Linked DNA regions of Homo sapiens. The protein of the gene in region 1 purifies or fractionates together with the protein of each later gene. This does not show direct contact. Each region holds a gene or a part of one and is shown in the gene's direction. Other genes may lie near its edges.

Evidence for each region.
Region 2: the proteins of CAP1 (region 1) and SEPTIN9 fractionate together in Homo sapiens (co-fractionation; one large-scale study listed by BioGRID). This does not show direct contact.
Region 3: the proteins of CAP1 (region 1) and TTC38 fractionate together in Homo sapiens (co-fractionation; one large-scale study listed by BioGRID). This does not show direct contact.
Region 4: the proteins of CAP1 (region 1) and SCPEP1 fractionate together in Homo sapiens (co-fractionation; one large-scale study listed by BioGRID). This does not show direct contact.
Region 5: the proteins of CAP1 (region 1) and OGA fractionate together in Homo sapiens (co-fractionation; one large-scale study listed by BioGRID). This does not show direct contact.
Region 6: the proteins of CAP1 (region 1) and PLOD1 fractionate together in Homo sapiens (co-fractionation; one large-scale study listed by BioGRID). This does not show direct contact.
Region 7: the proteins of CAP1 (region 1) and TPD52L1 fractionate together in Homo sapiens (co-fractionation; one large-scale study listed by BioGRID). This does not show direct contact.

What each region holds. Positions count from the first base shown.
Region 1 is NC_000001.11:40,057,729-40,061,228, forward strand, and holds part of CAP1 (adenylyl cyclase-associated protein 1), read left to right. Parts: intron 1-1,605; exon of another isoform or gene 1,606-1,608; 5' UTR 1,609-1,618; coding exon 1,619-1,730; intron 1,731-2,338; coding exon 2,339-2,442; intron 2,443-3,500. UniProt on the Homo sapiens protein: Directly regulates filament dynamics and has been implicated in a number of complex developmental and morphological processes, including mRNA localization and the establishment of cell polarity.
Region 2 is NC_000017.11:77,487,499-77,490,998, forward strand, and holds part of SEPTIN9 (septin-9), read left to right. Parts: coding exon 1-54; intron 55-741; coding exon 742-823; intron 824-1,228; coding exon 1,229-1,366; intron 1,367-3,243; coding exon 3,244-3,361; intron 3,362-3,500.
Region 3 is NC_000022.11:46,288,508-46,292,007, forward strand, and holds part of TTC38 (tetratricopeptide repeat protein 38), read left to right. Parts: coding exon 1-81; intron 82-894; coding exon 895-1,054; intron 1,055-1,318; coding exon 1,319-1,392; intron 1,393-3,500.
Region 4 is NC_000017.11:56,998,631-57,002,130, forward strand, and holds part of SCPEP1 (retinoid-inducible serine carboxypeptidase precursor), read left to right. Parts: intron 1-2,224; coding exon 2,225-2,362; intron 2,363-3,387; coding exon 3,388-3,500. UniProt on the Homo sapiens protein: May be involved in vascular wall and kidney homeostasis.
Region 5 is NC_000010.11:101,794,445-101,797,944, reverse strand, and holds part of OGA (protein O-GlcNAcase), read left to right. Parts: intron 1-1,973; coding exon of another isoform or gene 1,974-2,104; exon of another isoform or gene 2,105-2,464; coding exon of another isoform or gene 2,465-2,544; exon of another isoform or gene 2,545-3,500.
Region 6 is NC_000001.11:11,955,217-11,958,716, forward strand, and holds part of PLOD1 (procollagen-lysine,2-oxoglutarate 5-dioxygenase 1 isoform 2 precursor), read left to right. Parts: intron 1-1,700; coding exon 1,701-1,798; intron 1,799-2,625; coding exon 2,626-2,727; intron 2,728-3,299; coding exon 3,300-3,431; intron 3,432-3,500. UniProt on the Homo sapiens protein: Part of a complex composed of PLOD1, P3H3 and P3H4 that catalyzes hydroxylation of lysine residues in collagen alpha chains and is required for normal assembly and cross-linkling of collagen fibrils.
Region 7 is NC_000006.12:125,226,773-125,230,272, forward strand, and holds part of TPD52L1 (tumor protein D53), read left to right. Parts: intron 1-2,345; coding exon 2,346-2,494; intron 2,495-3,500.

The sequences.
Region 1 (3,500 bases):
GTCATTTTAGGCAGCTTCAAGGGAGTTGAGTTCATTCAGCTTCAGTTACCTGAACTGAATTCAGTTGCCTGAATTGACGCTTTTGTGAAATGGAATCTTTCCAAGTCAAAGCTTGGATTGAAATTTCACTGACTGGTTTTTATGAGATCACTTAGGGTCTCAAATACTTTATGTAGAGGTGCATTGATCATATTTTACACTTATGTGTGACTTATGGGCAACTTTTAGCACCCTTATCCCTCTGGAGTTTTGGAATGCTATTTGTGAGGTTTATAACTTCATAAATATTTATTGAACATCTACTACCTGCCAGGTAGTAGTCTAGATGGTAGAGTATACAGTAAGGAACAAGCTATATAAGGTCCTTTCTCTGTTGGAGCTTACTTTCTTTGGGATATTAGACATTGAATTAGGCTATTTCAGATAAGATAGTACTTGTGAAAGATCTATAACAAATTCTTTTGGATGTGTCTAGTGTCCTTCCCTACTGCATGTCCAGATCTTTCTCATCTTCATTTGAAGGCTGGCTCAAATGGCAGCTTCTCCATCATATCCTTATCTGATCCTTCCAGCTGATATATTACTCCCCTCTTTGAAATCTCATGCCTCTCTATCAGCAACTTTCTTATGTCACCTTAACATTTTTTTCTATTTGTTTCATAGTTGTTAGTGCATATGTTAAGTCTCCCCATTAGACTATAAATTACTGAGGGCAGGCCGGGCACAGTGGCTCACGCCTGTAATCCTAGCACTTTGGGAGGCCAAGGCGGGTGGATTACTTGAGGTCAAGAGTTCAAGACCATCCTAGCCAACACAGTGAAACCCTGTCGCTACTAAAACTACAAAAAATTAGCTGGGCATGGTGGCGCACACCTATAACCCTAGCTACTTGGGAGGCAGGAGAATCCCTTGAACCCAACAGGGTGGAGCTTGCAGTGAGCTGAGATCCTGCCACTGCACTCCAGCCTGGGTGACATTGTAAGACTTTGTCTGAAAAAAAAAAAATTATTGAGGGAAGAGTAAACATCCTATTCATCTTGGTTTGGGATATTTCACATGCAGGCAGCAGGATGTTGTAGGAAAAAAACACACTGAACTTAGAACCAGAAGGATCAGATAAGGATATGATGGAGTACTGGCTTCTCTATTCACTGGCCGTGTGACTAGACAAGTCATTTAGCTTCACTGAAACTAAGTTTTCTATCTCTAAGCGTGTAGTAATCATCCTTCTATTCCTGAATAGTTGTCGGGAGGCTCAAACTGAGATAATGTATGTGACTATCCTTTGCAAATTCTAACTTTCTACACACAGTATCATAGTAAATATTGAGTATTTGAATGAGTAAGCATTTACTTTAGTGAACACCTTTTCCTGAGCAGTTCTCTTGCTTAATGAGGTCTTTTGATTTTGTAAATATGCTACTTTTTTATCTGATATTTTTGTATTGTTCCATTTTGCAGATGATATCTAATTTTATTAAATTATTCTGTTCCTGAGAATTGGCATCCTCTTCATCCACCTGGGGATGACCAGGAATTTTCTGTTTTTTTCTCTGTAGGTGCTATTTAATATTTAAATAACAAATGACATTTGATCTGTTTCAGCAGGTGGTCCATTATGGCTGACATGCAAAATCTGGTAGAAAGATTGGAGAGGGCAGTGGGCCGCCTGGAGGCAGTATCTCATACCTCTGACATGCACCGTGGGTATGCAGACAGTCCTTCAAAAGGTAAGCAGTCCACAGCCCAGCAGAATGCTTTCTTTGAGCGTCTTGGCCTGAAAATTTTCTATTATTCTCTCCTTTGGCGCTAACTTCCCAAAACTTAATCTAGAAAGTTTACCTTTTGTAATTTGTATTGCTGTGAACAGATAAGAGAGGAAATGACTTGTACAGGGAGGCCTGTGGTTAAGTTATTTTAACACAAGAACTTCCTGCTTGTGCAATATTTCCTGCTCTTTCTTTAGCAGAATGACTCCAATGTAAGTCAAATGACAAGTGATAATAAAATTCCTCTCTCCAAACAATTGGCAAATTGGACATTTTGCACATGCACCAGTTGGAACATAGAATGTTAGCACTAAAAAAAACCTTGGAGGATCATTTTGTTTATTTTCATTTTATAGATAAAGAAAATTAAGCTCAGAGAGGAAAAGGAATTTAGTCAGGGTCACACAACCAGTTAGTGGTGATACTGGACCTGGAACCCAGGTTTCCTTACTCCTGTTCTGTATCCTGTTGACTGTATTACCTTGCCTCCCCACTTTCATGTAGAAGCACGTTTTAAAGAAGCCTCCTTCTGATGCATGGCTGATTCTTTGTGGTGTGTTTGTCTTTAGCAGGAGCAGCTCCATATGTGCAGGCATTTGACTCGCTGCTTGCTGGTCCTGTGGCAGAGTACTTGAAGATCAGTAAAGAGATTGGGGGAGACGTGCAGAAACATGTAAGGATGTTTTGCCTTTTTCCCCTTCTTTTAAGGACTAACAGCTTTCTTCAGTCAGCCAAGGTCCTCATCCTTGGTTTAAGAGCTCCTTGAGAAGTTCCTCTTGGTTTGGGGCATTACACATGTTCTTTCTCTTTTGCCTGTACTGAGGAGTTCAGTCTAGCCACAGAAACGATTCCTCATTTTTTTCTAGGCCCCTTGCTTTTATCACGTATTTATACAGAAAGCTTGCTTGGTACATAAAATATGGTTCTGTTCATCTTTGTAGTGAAGAATATGCACCAGTTTGATCCCAACATATTACATAATCAAACCTACAGTGGCTTATTTAAAGGAGTCATTATCATGACTTAGCATTTATAAAACTATGCTTGATAGTTATTAGTTATGCTAATGTGGGTTATTTTCACACTTAACCCACAGCAAGAATATGAAGTAGGCAATGACAGGTGCCTTTCCTCCCACCTTCCTTTATGCCTCCTACGTCATCACCACCACCCCCCACCCCCACCCCACACTCACATATACATTCTACCTCTATTTTTGGGACCCAAAAACCTTCCTGCTAGCTCACCGAATTATAAACAGTAACCATGCTTGGGAACTTCTTCACCTAAACCTTTCTCGAAGACTGGTTGCTTGGCTTTTGGAAAATCTATTTTGAGCCTCTCAAATACCATCTGTTGCCAATGGTTTTAGCTCTAGAGAGTGGGACTGGGACTTTAATAAGGGTGTGGAGGCTTGCATTTTTACTTAATACAGTTCTGTAACATTTGAAAAAACTTTAAAACATTTATCATTTGTATTTTAAAAATGCAAATCCAGAAAAAATAGATTGCTTTCTTTGAATTTTTGTATTTTAATAGTGCTTACAGTCTCATGTTTCTTAAATTCTTTTGACTGCGAATGACCCTTAGAAAGAAAGAACATATTCGTAACTGAGATAAAAGTTTCACAAGATGATATTTATACTACTTCTGCTGTACTTTTTTTTTTTTTAACTTTTTATTTGGAAATAACTTGAAGTTGGTGCACTGCACTCATACTTTTGTTCCATT
Region 2 (3,500 bases), on another chromosome or scaffold:
CCACCTCAGAGGAGCGCATCCCCAAGACCATCGAGATCAAGTCCATCACGCACGGTCAGTGGCCGGGAGTGGGCTGGGGGTGCAGGACGCCCCTGCCTTCCTGGAGCACAGGGGTTGGGGGTCAAGACCATCACACACAGTCAGTGGCCAGGGGCGGGCTGGGGGTGCAGGACTCCTCTGCCTTCCTGGAGCACAGAGTGGGGGGTCAAGACCATCACACACAGTCAGTGGCCGGGAGTGGGCTGGGGATGCAGGACGCCCCTGCCTTCCTGGAGCACAGGGGTTGGGGGTCAAGACCATCACACACGGTCAGTGGCTGGGGATGGGCTGGGGATGTGGGATACCCATGCCTTCCTGGAGCACTGGTGCGGTGTGAGGGTGCCCGAGTCAGGCAATCCCAGGTCCCCAAGACGGGGACTCGCTGTGCCCACCATCCCCAGCATGTTGAGCATGTTGGGGCTCTGGCTGTGATGGGTCAGTGTCCCGGACCCCTGTGGGCCCCGTCACACTGAGCTCCCCACAGACAACTGAGTTTTCCACCAAAAGTCTGACAGGCAAGGGGCTCCCAGGGGAACCGTCACCGGCCTGTGCCGGAGTTGGCTGAGGAAGGCCATTAATTTCCCGGTGTCTCCTTGGTTGTCATCGCTGCCTACCTGGGGTTGCCCCGGGGTCAGTCAGGTGTGGGGTGTCTGTGAGGGTCTTCCGTCTCCCCTCTGACTCTGCGTCCGTGGCTCTGTGCAGATATTGAGGAGAAAGGCGTCCGGATGAAGCTGACAGTGATTGACACACCAGGGTTCGGGGACCACATCAACAACGAGAACTGGTGAGGCCCCTCCAGGGGGAGGAGCACTAGCGGGGGCTTCAGGGCTCCCTGGACCCCACCCAGAGTCAGCCCTAGAGGTTTCCCGGCCCGCGGGGGTGCAGGGCCCACCTCCTGGGACCTGACATGCTGCCAAAGCCGCACGTCTCAGGGGCCTGAAAATTCTGGACCAAAGCAGAATTACCTGGGGAATCTTGCTGTCCCCAACTCATCACCTGAGGCCAGCCCGGGGAGGCTGGTTTGGGAGGCCGAGGGTAAGGCTGTGGCATCTCCGCTCAGCAAGCCAGACCTCCCAGGGCATGCATTTCATTGGAAGGTGGGGTGTTGGGCTCTGAGTCCTGGGAATGCACGACCTGCTTGGGGAGGGCATCTCATGTGCCTGCTGACTCGTCCCCATCCCCCACGCAGCTGGCAGCCCATCATGAAGTTCATCAATGACCAGTACGAGAAATACCTGCAGGAGGAGGTCAACATCAACCGCAAGAAGCGCATCCCGGACACCCGCGTCCACTGCTGCCTCTACTTCATCCCCGCCACCGGCCACTCGTACGTCCCTGCAGTGTCGGCGTCCTCATGCCGGGTGCCCTGGGTTCCCTCTGTCCCCTGGGACTGCAAGACGGTGCTGTCTGCCCTGCTGCTGGGTGCAGAGGGGCTGAGTCAGGGGCCATGGCCGCCAGCTATGAAGTTGGGGGTGTGCCATGTCTGCACCTCCAAAGCCTCACACTGACCCCTATGCAAGTGTCCTGCCCAGCCCCCATCCTTCAGCTGCGTCTTGGGGAGCTGAGGGTCAGGCAGGCCCTGGGCTGTTCTGGAGCCTGGTGGTCTGTGTCCTGCCTTCTCAGGCCAGGCTCTGGCAGGTGGAGTGGGAGCCCCCAGCCAAGCACCCGTAGCGGTGACTGACCTTCTCATCCGGGCCCTGCCTCATGGGACCCCTTAGAGGGTTTGGTGCGTTCTTAGACGGGAAGCACAGAGATCAGTGCTGGCCCCTTCCAGGGCTGGACGGGGCTGCTGTTGGTGTTGGTGAGAGCCCTTTCCTCCCGCCGGCTCTGTCCGCACCTGACGTCGCCCCTAGAGATCAGCAAGGGCGGGAGGCTGCATGTACCCTGGCAGGTGGACTCTTCATGGCCTCACGGACCCTCTGTCCTCAGCTCCCTGTGCACCCCCTGCCAGACACCTGTGGCTCACCCTGAGCCAGGGCTGGGAGGAGGAGGACCAGAGGCCAGCAGGAGTGGCTGGTGGAGGCAGCCGTGGGTGGCTTGTCTGCATGGGTGGGTGGAGAAGGTCCTTCGCACCTGCTGTCCCAGATGTACTTCCCTGGGCGGAGGAAGCCCAGGGGTTTGGGGAAACCATACTCTGTGGGCACCAGGTGCAGGAAGGAGCCTGGCTGGTGGGCAGCGGGCCTCACCCAGAGTCTGTGGGAAAACCCAAGCCGGAGTTTTCGAGCCCACCCTCTGGCATCATCCTCTGTGGGCCAGCAGGAGTCAGGGGCAGGGGGCCAGCCCGCTGTCCATGGGCCTCTCCTGAACTGAACATCTGCCCTCCCAGGCAGAACGGCTCACCTGCGGTCCTGTGGCAGCTGTTCCAGCTGCTCCAAGCTTTGCCTCAGCTGAGGCTGATGGCAGGAGGCAGAAGCCTCTCCTGATGCCAGCTGGGCAAGCCGAGGGCGGGCGGGCGGTCTGTGGCACTTCTGCCACTCCCCAGCACTGACCCTTTGGCTGGGACTCCAGCTAGGCATGTTGCCTGGTCCCGCCCAAGGCGTCCAGTCCCATGGGGCAGGGGCGGGCCTTGGCCATCTCTGCTTAAACTTCTGCCCGGAGCGGGCTTCTCCCCAGCCATGTGTGTGACCGATTTATTCTCACTGTGGGAAAAGCTCGGCTCCAGAACTGGGGAAGATGGTGCCCCAGTTCCAGGGCCCTGCCAGCCCCTGCCACCCACAGCTTTCCCCACATCAGACCCCAGGCTCACTGGGGCCAAGCAGGCAAGGGGAGCAGCCCGCCTGGTGCAGGGGAGCAGCCCGCCTGGTGCAGGGGCACCGCACACTGGTGCTAGCTTCTATTTCTCTTGCCTCTCCCCTCCCAGCCAAAGCCCCACAGCAAGACGGCTGCTGAGCCAACGACAGCCCTTCTGTGTGGACATGTAGGGGTGTGGTTGGGACCCCAGAACTCATGGACGAGGGTGCTTGGAGCTGGCCCTGGCCCGCCTGGCCTGTGCAGTGGTGTCACCTGTGTCTGGGACACACCCGTGTCCTTCCTCTGCCCCACACTCACAGCGTGGCCGACTCGGCCCGGGGCCCTGTCCTTGCCAGCAGGGACCCCCGTGAGCCCCGAGCCAGCACCTGAGAGTGTCGACACCTGCTTGGGGGTGGGTGCCCCCCCACTGCCCCGCTCCCCCAGATGAGCCTCACGCACATCCCTCTGCTTCAGCCTCAGGCCCCTGGACATCGAGTTTATGAAACGCCTGAGCAAGGTGGTCAACATCGTCCCTGTCATCGCCAAGGCGGACACACTCACCCTGGAGGAGAGGGTCCACTTCAAACAGCGGGTAGGGTTCCATCTCTACTTGCCCCAGCCCTTCTGTGCAACCTGGAGACGCTGCAGGCCTGGCAGGGGCCACCCCGTCTAAAGGAGTCACACTGTCAGGGAGACCGAACCGCTGGTCACTCTCCCCAGCGGGTGGCTGG
Region 3 (3,500 bases), on another chromosome or scaffold:
ACACTTCCTGATGGCATCCCTGGGTGCACACGACCCCCAGACCACACAGGAGCTGCTGACCACCCTGCGGGACGCCAGCGAGTATGCAGAGGGGCCTTCTCGGGGTGGGGGTCCTCACCCTGCCGAGAGGGTGAGGGGGTGCTAGGGCCATGCTGAGACCTGTTCAGTGCCTGCCCCGCCTGTGAGTGCAGCAGGGGGGATGCCCATGGAGGCAGCTCCCAGGTGTGCACCCCTATAGATGTGCATCCCCTGGTGCAGACCCCCAAGGTGTGTACACCCACAGCTGTACAACTGGTTGCCCCAAGACACAGAGCTGCCTCCATCCCCAGGGTGGGTATGAGATCCGCAGGGTCACAGGGCTGCCTCCCGTGGAGAGGACACAGTGAAGCCCTGAAGCCAGAGACACCTGCTGCTTACAGGCCCTGAGGTCCTGGACGAGGTGCTTCTGTGCTCTGAACCTCAGTTTCCCCATCTAAATCAGGGCGATGCCTGGCAAGAGCTGGTGAGGGCTGACCTGGAGGACCTGGGCTGCCCTGCCCATTCCCTTCCGGGGGTGATGATTGCCTTGGCTTGCAGTGCCAGGCCTTTGCCTGTATTATCAGCAATCCTGACGGTTCTGTTAGATTGGCACTGTTATGCCTGCTTACAGATGAGCAAACTGAGGCTGGAAGGTGGGGGACCAGGTAGCTGGAAGTGGGCGAACTCCAACCCAGCTCTGAGCTCAGTACCCTGTCCTGTCCCCTCGATGGGCTGCCCCGCCTGTCACCTCACCTCATCAGTGTGGCATGTGTCAGGCACTGGACCAGGGACACCTCGCTGAGGAAGAAATGGCTCTGCCCTTCCCGGATGTTCTGTGATGGGCAGGCAGCTGAGGGCACCGTCTTGGGTTCGCAGATCCCCAGGGGAGAACTGCCAGCACCTCCTGGCCCGAGACGTGGGGCTGCCCCTGTGCCAGGCCCTGGTGGAGGCTGAGGACGGGAACCCTGACCGCGTCCTGGAGCTGCTCCTGCCCATCCGCTACCGGATCGTCCAGCTCGGTGGGAGCAATGCCCAGGTGAGCCGATGGCCGCCAGCTGGGGTGCCTAGGGCCTGGGCCAGGGAGTCTGGGCGCCCCGCAGCCCCCAAGTTTCTCCCATGGTGTTGGTGCCAACAATGTGGGTGTGAACGTGTCTCTCACACTCCCGCCGTGTAAGTTCGTCGTTGAGGGTGTGGCATCAACACCACTGTCTCCCTGGAGAGCAGGCAGCCCGCGGTGGGCGGGGGCTCGCCTCCCCCATCCTGAGGTACAGGAGACTCACATGCCCGATTGACATTTCAGAGAGACGTCTTCAACCAGCTGCTGATTCACGCGGCCTTAAACTGCACCTCCAGCGTCCATAAGAACGTAGCCCGGTGAGCTCCTGGCCCCTGCCCAGCACTCCCGACCTTCACAGGCTCTCCCTGCAGACCTCAGGAGTGCCTGGAAGCCCCACCACCCTTGGCCCGAGATGCTCCTGCTTCTGAGGCTGTGAGGTCGGGAGGCTGTGGGGAATTTGGTTCTCCTTTGTTAGCAGGCTCAGTGTGACCAAGTGGAGCCAGCCCCACCCCAGGCCCAACCTCCCACCCTTCCCAGCCCACTCCCTTTTAGCCTTGCTAAGCTACCTGGGTACGTAAACACGTCCTGCTCTTTCAGGCTCCTGGGCCTTTGCACGCTTGGAACACCCTTTCTCCTTTTTTGCACCTGGCCGACACCTAATGCTCAGTTAGACCTCAGCTCATTTCACCTGCCTGCCTGTGCTGGGTACCGAGAGGGAGCAGTGAGCAGGCACACCAGTCACTGGCTACCAGGAGCCCATCTGTAGTCGGGGGAGCGACAGGGAGCAATCAGTCCCACAGACACGTAAACTCGCACTGAGGGAGCAGCAGCTGAGGGCAGACCCGAAACCACAGTGGGTTTAGCCAGGCCAGGCATGGGGCTGGTAGGAGGGTGGCGTGGCTGGAGGGTGAGTGTTAGGGTGGCATGGCTGGAGGGTGAGTGTGTTAGGGCAGCGTGGCTGGAGGGTGTTAGGAGGGTGGTGTGGCTGGAGGGTGAGTGTTAGGAGGGTGGCGTGGCTGGAGGGTGAGTGTTAGGAGGGTGGCGTGGCTGGAAGGTGTGTTAGGGTGGCGTGGCTGGAGGGTGAGTGTTAGGAGGGTGGTGTGGCTGGCAGGCGAGTGTCAGGAGGGTGGCATAGCTGGCAGATGAGAGTGCTGGGGGAACTCCAAAGAGCCCTCACCATTGCCAGCAGCCTTGGTGCTTCCATGGCCCAGCTTGCCTCCCTCCACTTAGGCTGCTGAGCTCTTGGCCAGCAGCTGCGTAGCCCGTGTGCCTGAGCGGCGAGTTTGACACCTCTCCTTGCCCATGTCCCTGCCACCCTCAGACATAAGTGAAAGGAAGAATAGAGGAGTCATGGGGTGCCTGGTGGGGAAGGTGTGCTGTGAGAGCAGGTGGCAGCCCGGGTCCACAGGAGGCCCTTGGCTGGTGACAAGCCCAGTGGTTTAGGCGCAGGTGCACCAGCGCAGCTCCCTCCAGGCAGGGTTACCCAAACTGAGCTGTACAGGTTCTGTGGTACTCATGAAACAGGTCTGGCTGGCAGCACTGGAACCGCCTAGAACTGTAAAATGTCTTGGACGCATGCTCCCCGCTTTCCCCTTCCATGGCTGTAGACAAAACCATGCGTGTTTCTTTGGTGGTCAAGCCCCCTGGGGAGCTCAGGCTGTGGTGTGGGTGGGAGTTGGTGCCTCTGGCAGCAGCGGTGGGGAAAGTGGCTGTGTGGACAGGAGGGCTGAGGATGGAGCTGGGGTGACATCTGTGGGGCAGTGCGGCAGTGCCGATGTGGCCTTCTGCGGGGCCCAGTGGGGGAGGGCAGGGGGAGAGCAGGCTGCACAGGGAGCCGACTGCATTAGGAGACGTGGAGGGGGCCTTCTCTCCAAGTCCTGTCCTGCTACCAGGCAGCATCCATGGGGCCATCAGCACAGCTCACCAGCCCCCAAGGTGGGAAACCTTCCACCCACAGCCATGGTGCCCCCCACAATGAGTTCCCGGCCCCAGCCCCTTCACACCACCCACGCCCTCTAGAACCACTGTTTTCAGGTGTTTGGGGGCTGTCTTAGTCAGTTTGGGTTGTTATTTTAAAAGTGCCACAGACAGGCCGGGCACGGTGGCTCATGCCTGTAATCCCAGCACTTTCGGAGGCCAAGGCGGGTGGATCACCTGAGGTCAGGAGTTCAAGACCAGCCTGGCTAATATGGTGAAACTCCGCCTCTACTAAAAATACAAAAAATTAGCCGGGCGTGGTGGTGGGTACCTGTAATCCCGGCTAGTCGGGAGCCTGAGGCAGGAGAATCGCTTGAACCTGGGAGGTGGAGGTTGCAGTGAGCCGAGATCGCGTCATTGCACTCCAGCCTGAGTGACCGAGGGAGATTCTATCTCAAAAAATTAAAAAATAAAAGTGCCACAGTCTGGGCGGCTTGCACAGTAGGCA
Region 4 (3,500 bases), on another chromosome or scaffold:
CCACGTTTTGTAGGTGAGCAAATAGATACAGAGACAGTAAATGACTTGTCAGGGCTGGATGCAGTGGCTCACGCCTATAATCCCACCACTGTGGGAGACTGAGTTGAGAGGATTGCTTGAGGCCACAATTAAGCAACATAGTAAAGCCCCATCTCTTTAAAAAAATAGAAAAATTAGCTGGGCATGGTGGCATGTGGCATATAGTTCTAACTACTTGGGAGGCTGAGGTGGGAGGATTGCTTGAACCCAGGAGTTTGAGGGTACAGTGAGCTATGATTATGCCACTGCTCTCCAGCCTGGGCAGCAGAGAGAAACCCTGTTTCTTAAAAAGGGGAAAAAAAAGACATCAAAATTGATTCAAAATAAGGAGTTGGTAGGGAGCTGAGTGGGGAGGGAAATAATGTGTAATTGGTTGTGAGTTAATAATTGTTGAAGCCTGGTATGGGTACATCGGAGCATTGTATGCTTCTCCTTTCTATCCATTTGAAATTTTCCATAATAAAAAATTAAGATAAAAAAGCTACATCGAAGGCCACAGTTGGTTGCAGATGAGATTTCGCGCCAAAGGTCCTTGCAGGATGTCAGAGACACCCAGGTGCTCGGGCAGATTTTGACCAGCTCTCTCTTGCTGACCTCCCCAGGCATCCTGATGCTGGATATGGCCAGGCATTACTGCGTTCTGGTCTCAAGGCCATGGTGAGGAAATAATGAAATCCTTAGAGACCAGGGCCAGGTAGAAATCTTGGTTAAGTTCCTACTTTAGTCCTATAGGGAGGCCTTGAGCAAGCAGAGATCTCAGGTTTCTGAAGGGAAAATACTCCAAACCTAAGAGGGTTTTGTTTCATGTGTGTTCAAGATACCCCAAGGATATGGGGTCAGTGGTCCTGCGGCTGCTGCTGGGAGCCTACGATTTGCTGCTGCTGGGAGCTTTCTCAGGGGACATGGGCCCTCCTCTCCCAACCTGCAGTCACCAGAGGTCTCATTCCATCCCTGGTTTTTTCATTACTCCTGAGTGCTGGGAGAATTTTAGAAATGAAGAAAAATTAGCTCAAATGAAAAGAGCTGGGTGTGGCCGGGTGTGGTGGCTCACGCCTGTAATCCCAGCATTTTGGGATGCCAAGGTGGGCGGATCACCTGAGGTCGGGAGTTCGAGACCAGCCTGACCAACATGGAGAAACCCTGTCTCTACTAAAAATACAAAATTAGCTGGGTGAGGTGGCACATGCCTGTAATCCCAGCTACTTGGGAGGCTGAGGTGGGGGAATCGCTTGAACCCGAGAGGCAGAGATTGCGGTGAGCCAAGATTGTGCCATTGCACTCCAGCCTGGGCAATAAGAGTGAAACTCTGTCTAAAAAAAAAAAAAAAAAAAAGAGCTGGGCGTGGTGGTGTGCATCTGTAGTCTCAGCTACTTGGGAGGCTGAGGTGGGAGGATCGCTTAAGCCTGGGAGGTAGAGGCTGCAGTGAGCTGAGATTGTGCCCCCGCTCTCCAGCCTGGGTGACAGGGTGAGACTCTGTCTCAAATAAGTAAATAAATAAATAAAAATTAAATTTTTTTAAAAGAAGACTTCTTATCTCCCAAGGTAATGAAGAAGAAAATGGGATGTTGCTTGTCAGATGCCTCCTTGGCAGTGACTAGCAAATAATGGTGGCTGCCACTCTTATTGCTGTCATTCAGTGTTAGGATAATGCTGATGGGCAGGAGCTAGCAAGAGTACTAGCTCCTCTCTTGCCTGGGGCTTGTTATTCATTTGGCTTTCCTGAGGGCCAGCTCTGAATTGGTTTAGGTTTGATCTGGTTTATTATAAGGTAGGCCTACCTGTTCAGAACTTGAAACTTGGCCCTGGTGTTACTCAAAAAAACAGGAAAACTGACATTGGCCCAAAGCACAATTTATTCCCTGAGTGTACCAGCCTAATGAGTATTTCCTGGGCCTCTCCCTCCCTGTTTCCTTGGACAGTAGCCTATTCCAGGTGTCAATTCCTCATTAAAAATGGTGCCTGCTGTCATCACAAGCTCTCAAGAGAATGGACCACATGTGCTATTTATGTGTGCCTTACACCTGACCAGTCGGCACAAATTTCTGGGCTGGTTCATCCCTGTTTGTGAAGCATCTGTGCATTCAGTCGTTGTTCGGTGCTGGAGCCCAAGATGCTCTGGGCTGAAAGGTACCTCCTGTTTTGGCAGATTCCAAGCTACTCCCTCTTTCTCCTTCCCCATGTGCAGGCCAGGCTACCAACGTCTTTGTGAACATGGAGGAGGACTTCATGAAGCCAGTCATTAGCATTGTGGACGAGTTGCTGGAGGCAGGGATCAACGTGACGGTGTATAATGGACAGCTGGATCTCATCGTAGATACCATGGGTAGGAATTGACTCTGAGAGGCACCTAGAGGCAGTTTTATGGGTTCAACTGGAAGGGAACTGGCCTTGGACATGTCAGTCTTGCGGTGGGTGATGTTGAAATGCCAGGTGGAAGGCCATTTCCCATTACATCCGTCTACCCCGACCTTGATTATTCAAAGGGTGGGGAGCTGCACGTGGCTGTGACCCCTCAGAAGCCTGAGCCTACCTGGGTTTGGGGGCCCTTAGGTATGATTAAAGAAAAGAACACCACCTGTCTCTACCACAAAACTTAGACATTTTCCTGGTTATTGGGCAAATGCGCTGTTTAATTAAGGGAGAGCCTCATTTTTGTGCGACATCACAGTCGATGTTGACCACTGCAGAGTGAATTAAAACTAAACCCTAATGACTGTAACCCTGAAGACCCAGGGGAAATGGTCTTTGTGGAATCCTGACTCCTGCCCTATCACCTACCACCTGTTTAATTTGCTCACTTCCAAATTAAATAGGGCCTGGTGGAGGCTCAGAGACAGGTTCTCTGAACTGGCAGGGTAATTGAGGCACAAGGTCTGACGGATGTGACACGCCTCGTGAACCAGAAGGATTGAATATTTTTGTGATGGGTAAACAAGAGACACCAAGGACAATTTGGAAAGCTGCTGCATTTCTCGATGAACATCCCAGGTGATCCTTATCACTATCTCGTTCACGACATCTCTCAGTCCTCCTCACAGGCCTGTCTGCCTCCAGAGGTCCCCAGTTCCCTTCCTAAAGAGCAGATGGCGGTGAGAGATGCAGAGGCAAAATCAGTCAGGCTTTGCAGCTGTTAGGTTTCTCCCAGCAGCCTAGGTTTCACTGGGAGTCAGAAATGCAGATGCTCAGGCCCTACCCTGATCTTCTGAATCAGAATTTGCATTTTAACAAGATCCTGAGTGAGTTTCATGCATATTGCAGTTTGGGAAGCACCAACTTTTAGGACCTAGACTTTTTTCCTATTCTATCCAGCTGTTAATGCCAGGCCTTTCTCTTTGTCCTTCTCACCAGGTCAGGAGGCCTGGGTGCGGAAACTGAAGTGGCCAGAACTGCCTAAATTCAGTCAGCTGAAGTGGAAGGCCCTGTACAGTGACCCTAAATCTTTGGAAACATCTGCTTTTGTC
Region 5 (3,500 bases), on another chromosome or scaffold:
ATATTGTCCCTTTAAAAAAAATTATCCCACAGGGAGAAAAACATTTAGGGAATTGGCACATTTCCAAGTCTCTTCAATTCGTTGCCTAGGTTTCTTTCAAAAATAGGCATTATTGAAGACTTGAGATGCAAGTCTTAGTAAATACATCAAGCACATTAATTTTTCTCCCTTGGGCTAATTCAGCATAAGTATCTTAAAAGTATGTTAGAAAGTACTGACTTTAACTTGCTCTGACTGAATGCTTTCTGGATGGAACCCTGTATACCACTTTTATCTGATTTGGAGATGAGACACTATGAAATGTGACTCCACAAGCTTTCTGCTGCTTGCTGTGTCTTGATAACATTAATGCTATGTTTAACAGAACAATTGCTGAAATGACCTAAAGGGCCTGGCAAGAGGAAGCCATCCTCCCAGCCCTGTGCGCATGCGAGCTTTAGTGTAAGGCTATTCTGGTGCTATTCAGTATTATTTCACGTGGCTTTTTCTTTATCCTTCTACCAAGTATTGGTTTTACCAGGGGATAGAAATTGTAATCCCCTAAACATCTCTGCTACATTAAATGGACTTTTGTATGTCTCCTTTGAACACTGATTTTTTTTTTTTAAATTGTCAAACTTGGTAAAAAGCACCAGCATGGCCAAGTTTCTCTAGGGACTTCATTTCATTTTCAGGTTTTCAATCCAGCTATAAGGAATATGTAATGGACTTATATACAGCACACAGCAGGCAGCAAGGCTGACTGACATGTCATAGTTTTCATAGTAGTCACAAATACTATGATGGGTTTCATGGTCTTGGTTGTGAAATAGATATCTGAAACACCGTGAGCTTAGAATAAAAAGTAGTAGTGAGATTTTCCACTTTCTGCCTGTATACCTTTGAGCTCTTAAATATTTAAAAAAAAAAAAAAAAAGTTTCCCTGTGATACAACTAATTAGCTACTAAAAGTAGAGTCTCAGATTGTTAATTTGAAAATAGATAACTTTTTTTGGATTGCTGTAATAACAGGTAGAAGAGAGTATTTTGACCTCATGTTAAAAGGCTCTGTATAGCTTCGGGCGCGGTTGCTCACCCCTGTAATCCCAGCGCTCTTGGTGGCTGAGGTGGGTGGATCACTTGAGATCAGGAGTTCGAGACCAGCCTGGTGAAAACCAGCATGAGACCAGCATGGTGAAACCCTATCTCTACTAAAAAAATACAAAAATTAGCCAGGCGTGGTGGCGCATGCCTGTAATCCCAGCTACTTGAGAGGCTGAGGCAGGAGAATTGCTTGAACTCAGGAGGCAGAGGTTGCAGTGAGCTGAGATCACACCATTGCACTCCAGCCTGGGCGATAGAGGGAGACTCCATCTCAAAATAAATAAATAAATAAAGGAAATACTGACCGTGCGCAGCGGCTCAAACCTGTAGTCCCAGCACTTAGGGAGGCCTAGGCGGGCAGACCACAAGGTCAGGAGTTTGAGACCAGCCTGGCCAATATGGTGAAACCCCATTTCTACTAAAAATACAAAAATTAGCTGGGCGTGGTGGCATGTGCTTGTAGTCCCAGCTGCTTGGGAGGCTGAGGCAGAAGAATCACTTGAACCCAGGAGGTGGAGGTTGCAGTGAGCCGAGATTGTGTCACTGCACTCCAGCCTGGGTGACAGAGCGAGACTTCATCTTGTGGGGCTGGGGGGAGGCTCTGTATAGCTCCTGTACATGGGAGACATCTACCCTTAGGCTCAAGAGACCTCAATATTGGTTGCTGGATGACAACATTTGCCTTCCAGGTTTCTGCTCAGGTTCTTATAATTCATTCTTATAGGGATTTAAACTTAAGTTTCTAAGGCCCTTAGGAATTTTGAACCTGAAATCTGGATTATTGAGCTTGAAATGTATTACAGAAAACATTTGATATTCAGTTTTTAATTTAAGAATTATTAAAAGTTAAATTCTTAATGATACACAGTATTGTTTCTTTCTCTTCTCAGGGTTTATCTCTGCACTGAGCATTTATGGTGGTAGCTTTCCAAAATTATATAGATACCTCTTACACAATCTCAAGCTCTTACAGCAAGCTTGTCCAGCCTGTGGCTCAACACAAGTTTGTAAACTTTCTTAAAACATTGTGAGTTTTTTTATTTTTTATTTTTTTTAAGCTCATCAACTATCATTAGTGTATTTTATGTGTGGCCCAAGACAGTTCTTCCAGTGTGGCCCAGGGAAGCCAAAAGATTGGACACCCCTTGTAACATCTTAGAAGTTTTAAATAATTATCTTCATATCCACATAGCTTTACAAAAGCTCACGACAGGGAGAGTATTTTCTTGGTTCTGTAGTAATTTCAGGGGGTTTACTGATTGGAACCCTTCCTTTTCCTCCTCTCTCCAGTCCAGCTGGCATTCAGTCCTTTAAACAATGTGGCTATGCAGTACTTTTGATTACTAATGACTTCTATTATCTTCTTCCCCATTGTGTACAGATGGGAGAATCCTCAGCACAAGTGTCTACTACTATTGGATGGACAGCGGCAGATGTTCACAGCGCGTCATGATTAATTAGTTTAAATTGCAAGGTTCTATCTGTGAGGTAGCTCAGGTAGATTTAAGGGCGGTAGACATGAACTGAAGTCACGTTTGCGCAGCGACTGAGGCATTAACCATGTTTTCATTTACACAGCTCTTCGTACATGCAGCTTTTTATTGTAATAGTTGGAAGTGCTAGTTATGTTGTAGTCTCAAAGTAGGGGGTAGGGGAAATTGGCTGATCTTAAAGTTTGAGAGGTATAGTTTTTTTCCTGCAGTGTAAATTACACTGAGTTACGGAATGGGACAGGTTCTCGTATAGTCTAAATTTTGACCCTGTTTCATATTTATTTTACAAATACTACATTTTATGTTTTTTAAAAGTACCCCTACCCTTGAAAAATGACAAACCAGATACAAACTCTTAATGGGCCTGAATTGTTAACAAAAAATTGGTTTGCTTTGGGACTGTCTGACTAGCACACTATATTTGTACTGATGAGACTGTTAACTTGAACAGGAGGTAGAATGCTGTCTTCCAATGGAAAAGAACTATATTGCGCTGCTTTATCTTGTCAGAAGACTAGGCAAGTGATTTTGATTTGGCCTCCAAACATTTGCCTTTATGTCTTACTGTTAGCTAGCGTTATTGCCTATTAAGTTAGTTAACTGGTGACCTTAAATAGAGACTTCTGTATTCCATGTGTATGTTCAGTGTATTGCAAAGATTATTATAATGGCTGGTCAGAGGAACCAGATACTGTCATACTTTTAAGAAAAGTATATTTAGCTCTGGGCAAAATAACATCAATTGGCTCTCCTTAGTTCTCAGAATCTGTCAGACTGGTATTATTAGCCAAGTCTGATTTTGAATTGTTTTTGTCCAAAAAAATTTTTCTCATTATGTTTCATTTTGTCAACTTAATTTCTTGTATTTTATTCTACTGACCTTAGTTTTCTGACAAGATTAATCCTTCTCCCCCGCCCTTTTCC
Region 6 (3,500 bases), about 28 Mb from region 1:
AGGTGAAGGAGTCCTGGGCTAGGGGCAGGAACTCAGCTGGTGGGACAGGCAGCTTGGGAAGCAAAAGGCTACTTGACCCTTGATGCCGCAAACATCCCTGGGCCTGGCCTCATGTCTGTGGCTGGTGATGACATTGCTTTGCCGCAGGTCTTCCTGTCTTCCTGAGTGACCTCAGGCAAGTCACACCTCCTCCCCACAGGGGACTCAGTTTTCTTATCTTTACAAAAGGGAAGTGAACCGGATCCACTGATTGCTGATTTTGTGGATAAATGGGCCCTTTTGAGAATCTGATGAAAGCTACGGCTCTGCTCCCAGAGAAACGCAGAAAATGCCCTTTGCCTGTGGTTTCTGGGGGTTAAGAAGCACTGAGTTCAGATCCACGCAGGTCAGGAGCTATCTGTTTTCCTTTTTTTTTCTTCTTTTTTAAGATGGAGTCTTGCTCCATCGCCCAGGCTGGAATGCAGTGGCGAATTCTCGACTCACTGCAACCTCCGCCTCCCAGGTTCAAGTGATTCTCCTGCCTCAGCCTCCCAAGTAGCTGGGATTACAGGCGCACACCACCATGCCCGGCTAATTTTTGTATTTTTTTAGTAGAGATGGGGTTTCACCATGTTGGCCAGGCTGGTCTCGAACTCCTGACCTCAGGTGATCCACCTGCCTTGGCCTCCCAAAGTGCTGAGATTACAGACGTGAGCCATCGTGCCCAGCCCTATTTTAATTTTTAAAATAGAGACAGGGTCTCACTATGTTGCGCAGGCTTGTCTCAAACTCCTGGGCTCAAGTGATCCTCCCACCTTGGCCTCCCAAAGTGCTGGGATTACAGGTGTGCGCCAGCGTGCCCAGCTGAAATACCCATTTTCCTATGTGCAGACTAATAGGGTCAAACATGGGTATTGGGGGCCAGGCACTGTAATCCCAGCACTTTGGGAGGCCAAGGCGGGTGGATCACCAGAGGTCATGAGTTCAAGACCAGCCTGACCAACATGGTGAAACCCCGTCTCTACTAAAAATACAAAAATTAGCTGGGTGTGGTGGCATGTGCCTGTAATCCCAGCTACTCAGGAGGCTGAGGCAGGAAAATCACTTGAACCTGGGAGGCGGAGGTTGCAGTGAGCCGAGATCATGCCACTACACTCCACACTGGGCAATAGAATGAGACTCCATTTCTAAAAAACAAAAAACAAAAACACACACAAAAAACATGAGTATTGGAACCCTGCTGCAGGGGCTCCCTCCACTGGGACAAGATCTGTCCTGATCATGCCCAGGCCTCCCCTGCATGTGGCTCTGGCATTTTCTCAGTGCTGCTCTGCCTACTCAGAGAAGGCGCGTCCCAGACCCTTTCTCTTGGGGCTTCTCTGAGGTGCCTGGAGCTGGGATGTTCCAGGTCTTCGTTCTTCTCCCAGCCCCTGCTTCTGACTGTAAGTAACCACAACAAGTACAGGGGTTGCCGTGGATTCTGTGCTCATGATGGGCCAGGCTTGGTGCCCCACGCTTGTTCAACACAAATCCTCCCCCTCACCCCATGAAGAAGGGATTATTCCTATTTTATAGATGAGGAAACTGAGGCTTAGAGAGAAGTGACTTGCCCGAGGACATAATCTACTCACTGCACAGCTGGGATTTGAGCCCAGCTGGTTGGACCCTGAGCCTGACCTCTGGGTCTGATGCTGGGTGGGACTGTGCTTTCTGACCCCCAGATGAGGTCGTGCTCAAGTTTGAAATGGGCCATGTGAGAGCGAGGAACCTGGCCTATGACACCCTCCCGGTCCTGATCCATGGCAACGGGCCAACCAAGGTAGGGGGTCCCCAGCCCCTGGGGAGTGTGGGAGGGGGCCAGAGCCCTAATTTCATTCTCACTGTGACCCCACAGTGTCTCCCTGGGGCCAGGGCCACCTTCCTGGGGCCTGCTATGAACTCACTGCCTCTGTCCTCACATCTGAGCTCAGCGTGATGCCTTCTTTTCCTGCTGTGGTGGTCAGTGGTACTCTGTCTGTTCTTGCTGGTCACAGGACACGTAGGAGGCTGCCATCCCCTTCCAGGCCTAGGCTGGGCTACCAGAGCCATCTGCACTGTCACCCCAGGGCAGAGTCACTTATTCACTCAGTAAACCTTTATTTCATGTTTGCACCAGACAGTAAGACATAGTCATAAGCAGGACGGATGTCCTGCATTCATGGTGACAGAAGGGACTGGGTGCAGATGCGGCCAGGGACAGAATGGACCTCACTGGTCCCTGGGGAACTGGCTCATAGCTCATAGCATATTTGAGTGTGGTCCTTCACCGCTGGAATGAGGGAGAGGAAGGAGGATGTGATGTGTTTAAAATGCAAATTTGCTGATTTCACCCAGGATCTGTTCAGATGGAATCTCTGAGCGGGGTGGGACCCAGGAATCTGCATTTTACAAGCTCTCGGGAGAAGCACTAGAGTGCCAAGCCCTCCCCTGCCCTCTCTCAGAGCGGCTTGGTGATCTCCTGGGGATGGAGCATTATCTCCAAGACCCTCTTAGGGAGTGGGAGGGGGCTGGATGGTGCTGACCCACTGGGGGCCCAGGGAGATGTGAGTCAGGGCTATGGCAGGTGGGGCTGGCTGGCTTCTCTGTGACCCCACGTCTCCCCGACAGCTGCAGTTGAACTACCTGGGCAACTACATCCCGCGCTTCTGGACCTTCGAAACAGGCTGCACCGTGTGTGACGAAGGCTTGCGCAGCCTCAAGGGCATTGGGGTGAGGCTGCGCCCAGGCCTGTGCCTGAGGGACACGGGGGGCTCAGTCCCCTGAGATGGCGAGATGGGTGATTCTGGAATAGACTCCATTGTCTTTGGTGGAAAGTGAAGGGGTCACCTCCCTGCCTGGGGTTCTATCCCGGTTGCCACCCAAGTGCCTCCTCCTGGAAGCCCTCTCAGATTGCATGTCTCTAGCTTCCCCCGAGATGTCCAGGTTCTGGTTTCTTCTGCCTGGTCCTTCAGGCTCTCCTGCAGCCCCCTCCCCATCCCATGAACCTCATCCTCATTTATGACTCACCTCGAACACCACGCCAGCCACGATCTCCTGACAGCAGGCCCTCAACCGAGTCCTTGTTCCAGGCCTGGGCTCCTGCTGCTCTCTCCCCGGGGCACCCTCCTGCTGCTTCCCTGCCCCCCCGTACCCCCTGACTGGAGTTCCCCGGCCCGGGCACCTTTCTTGGGAAGTCTACATGCTTCTGATTCTGGCTCTGACTCCCTTGGGCCACCCTGGGGTGGAGTGGCAGTGCTGTGACTGGACACTGCTGGACTCTTGTGCCGCCCTCCCTGGTGCAGGATGAAGCTCTGCCCACGGTCCTGGTCGGCGTGTTCATCGAACAGCCCACGCCGTTTGTGTCCCTGTTCTTCCAGCGGCTCCTGCGGCTCCACTACCCCCAGAAACACATGCGACTTTTCATCCACAACCACGTGAGTAACAGGCGCTCTGTGGGGTCGTCATGTGGCTTAGATCCAGGGCCCAGCTTCACAAGGTAGCCC
Region 7 (3,500 bases), on another chromosome or scaffold:
CAAGCATTTTCTGTGGTAAAAGAGCAAGAGATACAACCATGAGAAATATTGGGCAGCAGATTAAATGGAGGAGGACACATTGACAAAGATGAAAAAGAGAAATATGACATGATAACAAAAGAATAGAAGGGCTTAATTTTAAAATAACAGTGTATTCTCATTTAATGGAGAGACTAAAAGCATTATTCTCTTTACTGGTCCCTAAACATACTCCTTTTACAGTAATCAGTGTATGTATGCACACTGAAGACTCTTGCTCATCAAGGAAAGACAGGGTTCTATTGATTATACTATGTTTGTAGAATATGTAATTCACTTTAGATTTTAGAAAGATGTCCATGTACATATAAAAAATGTTCTGTGAACATAAAGAAATGGATAATGTTAAATTGCCAGGACATTTTGCTGATATTAAAAACCCCAAGATATTGCTACTTCTTACTGTGGTATTTAAGATGCTTGTGATTCAGTATTTCTGCTTGTTTTGCTTACGTGATTATTTGTGTATATAAAGGTTCGCAAAACCATTTCTGTCTGTTCACTATTGGCGCTAGTGAAAGACTGGGGGGTTTTATTGCATGTTTTGCTTTTGCAAAGGCAGATGCCCTTCTTGAGCTGCTTTCCCAGGAGCTGTGACTCTGGTGATCCAAGGAACGCATTTGCAAGATGACTGACAGCCTGACAGGGTTGGTGTGATGCAGCTTGTGGTCCGAAGTAGAGTGACACTTTACAGTAAATGAGCCACAGTTGCTCCTTTTTAAAAAAAATTTAGTAAGAAATCCACTAAAGTGACAGAGTTTTATTACCTCCATGCATGTGGGATACTAAGGTAGTTCTAATGATTCTTTTCCGGCTTAACAAGGAAAAGTCACAAAATTTGTTTTCCATATTTCAGAAAACAAAGATGTAAATGTAAGCACTGATACCAGAGCAATATGTTATAGAGTATGACAACTAATTAAAATCAAAGACTTTGTGATTTATTCAGATTTATTTTCACAGGATAGAACAGCACTTTCCAAAATCTGAGTACTTTACAGAGCTCTTTTGTTAGAAATTGCATTTGCAAGAGCAATTTTATAGTGCTGAAGAGATCTGCTTTTCTGTAGCACAGGGGAAAGAGGAAATATGTCCATACGAAGCCTTGTACATGAATGTTCATAGCAGCTTTATTTGCATTAGCCTAACCTAAATGCCCTTCAACAGGCAAATAAACAACACACTTTGGCATATTCATTCAATAGAATACTACTCTGCAAAAAAAGGGGAAGAACCATTGATAATGCAGCAACATAGATGAATATAAAATAACTATCTGCAAAGCCAAGCAAAAATGAGTGTATACTCTATGATTCAATTTGTATAAAATTCTAGTAAATATCTGCAAACTAAACCCTAGGGAAAGAAAGTCAGTCAGTGGCTGTCTGGTGAGAGTGGATTGGGGGAAAGGAAAGAAGAGGGAGGGAGGAAGAAGAAGAAGCAAGTAAAAGGTGATGAATATGTTCACTTCCTTGATTGTGATAATGGCTTCACGGGTAGATACATATGTTAAAACTTACAAATTATACATATACACTTTAAATGTCTGCAGCTTATTGTATGACAGTTACAGGTCAATGAAACTGTTAAAAAGAAAAATCAACACAAATCACTCTTTTACATACATCCTCTAATCCCTTGTTCCTTCCTTTCTTAAGGCATTAGCTTGGCAAAACCCCATTGTCTGCCAATTCCATTCCTGCACCTATGCAACTGTGTGTGGTTGGCAAAAAATAAACTACACTGAGACCAGGCGTGGTGGCTCACGTCTGTAATCCCAACACTTTGGGAGGCCAAGACAGGAGAATCCCTTGAGGCCAAGAGTTTGAGACCAGCCTGGTCAACATAGTGAGACCCTGTCTCTTTAAAATAAATAAATAAAGTGGCACTTGAGAAGAAGTTATATAAAATAAGGGTACAGTAGAAAACCAATTTTTGTTCAAAAATTATGTCTATATACAACTTATAGAAAGAACATTTGGAAGTTTAGAAACCAAAAAATAAGCAGTGGCTATTTCCTAGCAGGATACAGGTGATTTTTATTTTCTTGTTTATGTTTTTCTGTACAATCTCACTTTTTTTTTTAACAAGCAGCATAAATTACTTCTATAATCATTAAAATGAAAAATTCTGTTTCTACTTTGAGATATTAGACTATCATCTGTATGGGGTGTATTTGGCAAACCTACACATGGGATTGTATAAATAGGAGGGTCAGAGGCTGCTTTGGAATACCCAGAGCTTCTGTAAGTATCCTTTTTTGCTGGTCTGACATTTTCCCCCACCATTTCCCCTCCGCCTTGTAGCTAGAAGACGAAATTACAACACTACGACAAGTTTTGTCAGCGAAAGAAAGGCATCTAGTTGAGATAAAACAAAAACTCGGCATGAACCTGATGAATGAATTAAAACAGAACTTCAGCAAAAGCTGGCATGACATGCAGACTACCACTGCGTAAGTATCATATGAACAGTGTTTTATTAACTCAGCCTGATGTCTCCTCACTCTGTTGTGTTTTGTTTCATTTTTCCTACAAGGCTGATTTGGTGCATGAAGCTAGGAAAAAAAAATACTTTCTCTAAAAGCAAAGCAAAGAAATGTGAATAATCATTAAGTATGCTGCATGTGAAGCAGATTCTATAAAGTAGCTTCATGAAATAAAACTCTGTTCACTGAAACTCTATTTTCACTCAGACTACTTTCATTAGGTTTTATTGTTTAAATGTTTTTCTCTTTATATTTTTAACATTTGTCAAATATACTTTTTTTAAAACTTTTTCTCATAAAAACTATAAATGGGAAGGTGTTTTCTCCTCAGCACACTTGACACTCACTATGTATGTCTTCCAAAAGTGGTTGGCAGTTTCAATACTGACTTGCTGGCAATTGATTTACAAAGAAAACCTTGTACTTTTCATCTTTTGTTTTGCACTTTTCATTCTCACTATTCTAGGGAATATTTAGAGCTGGGTTTAGACCAGTTTTAGAGCTTGGTTTAGATTACAGTTTTGGCCCTGTAATCCCAGCACTTTGGGAAGCTGAGGCGGGTGGATCACAAGGTCAGGAGATCAAGACCATCCTGGCTAACATGGTGAAACCTCGTCCCTACTAAAAAATACAAAAAATCAGCTGGGTGTGATGGCATGCCCCTGTAATCCCAGCTACTCGGGAGGCTGAGGCAGGGGAATTGCTTGAACCCAGGAGGCAGAGGTTGCAATGAGTCGAGATGGCGCCACTCCACTCCAGCCTGGCGACAGAGGGAGACTCTGTCTCAAAAAAAAGAAAGGAAGAAATGGTTTTTGCTTTGCCATTATCGTCCTGTCTTGTGCTAGGTAAGGTACAGAATAATCTCAGTTATTCTACAATCACACTTTTTTTATTAGATTATTCTTAAGTTGCATGAAATATTTAATGATGATGGTACTTTTCTAATGTTGCAAAGTATTTTACCTGCTGGGGG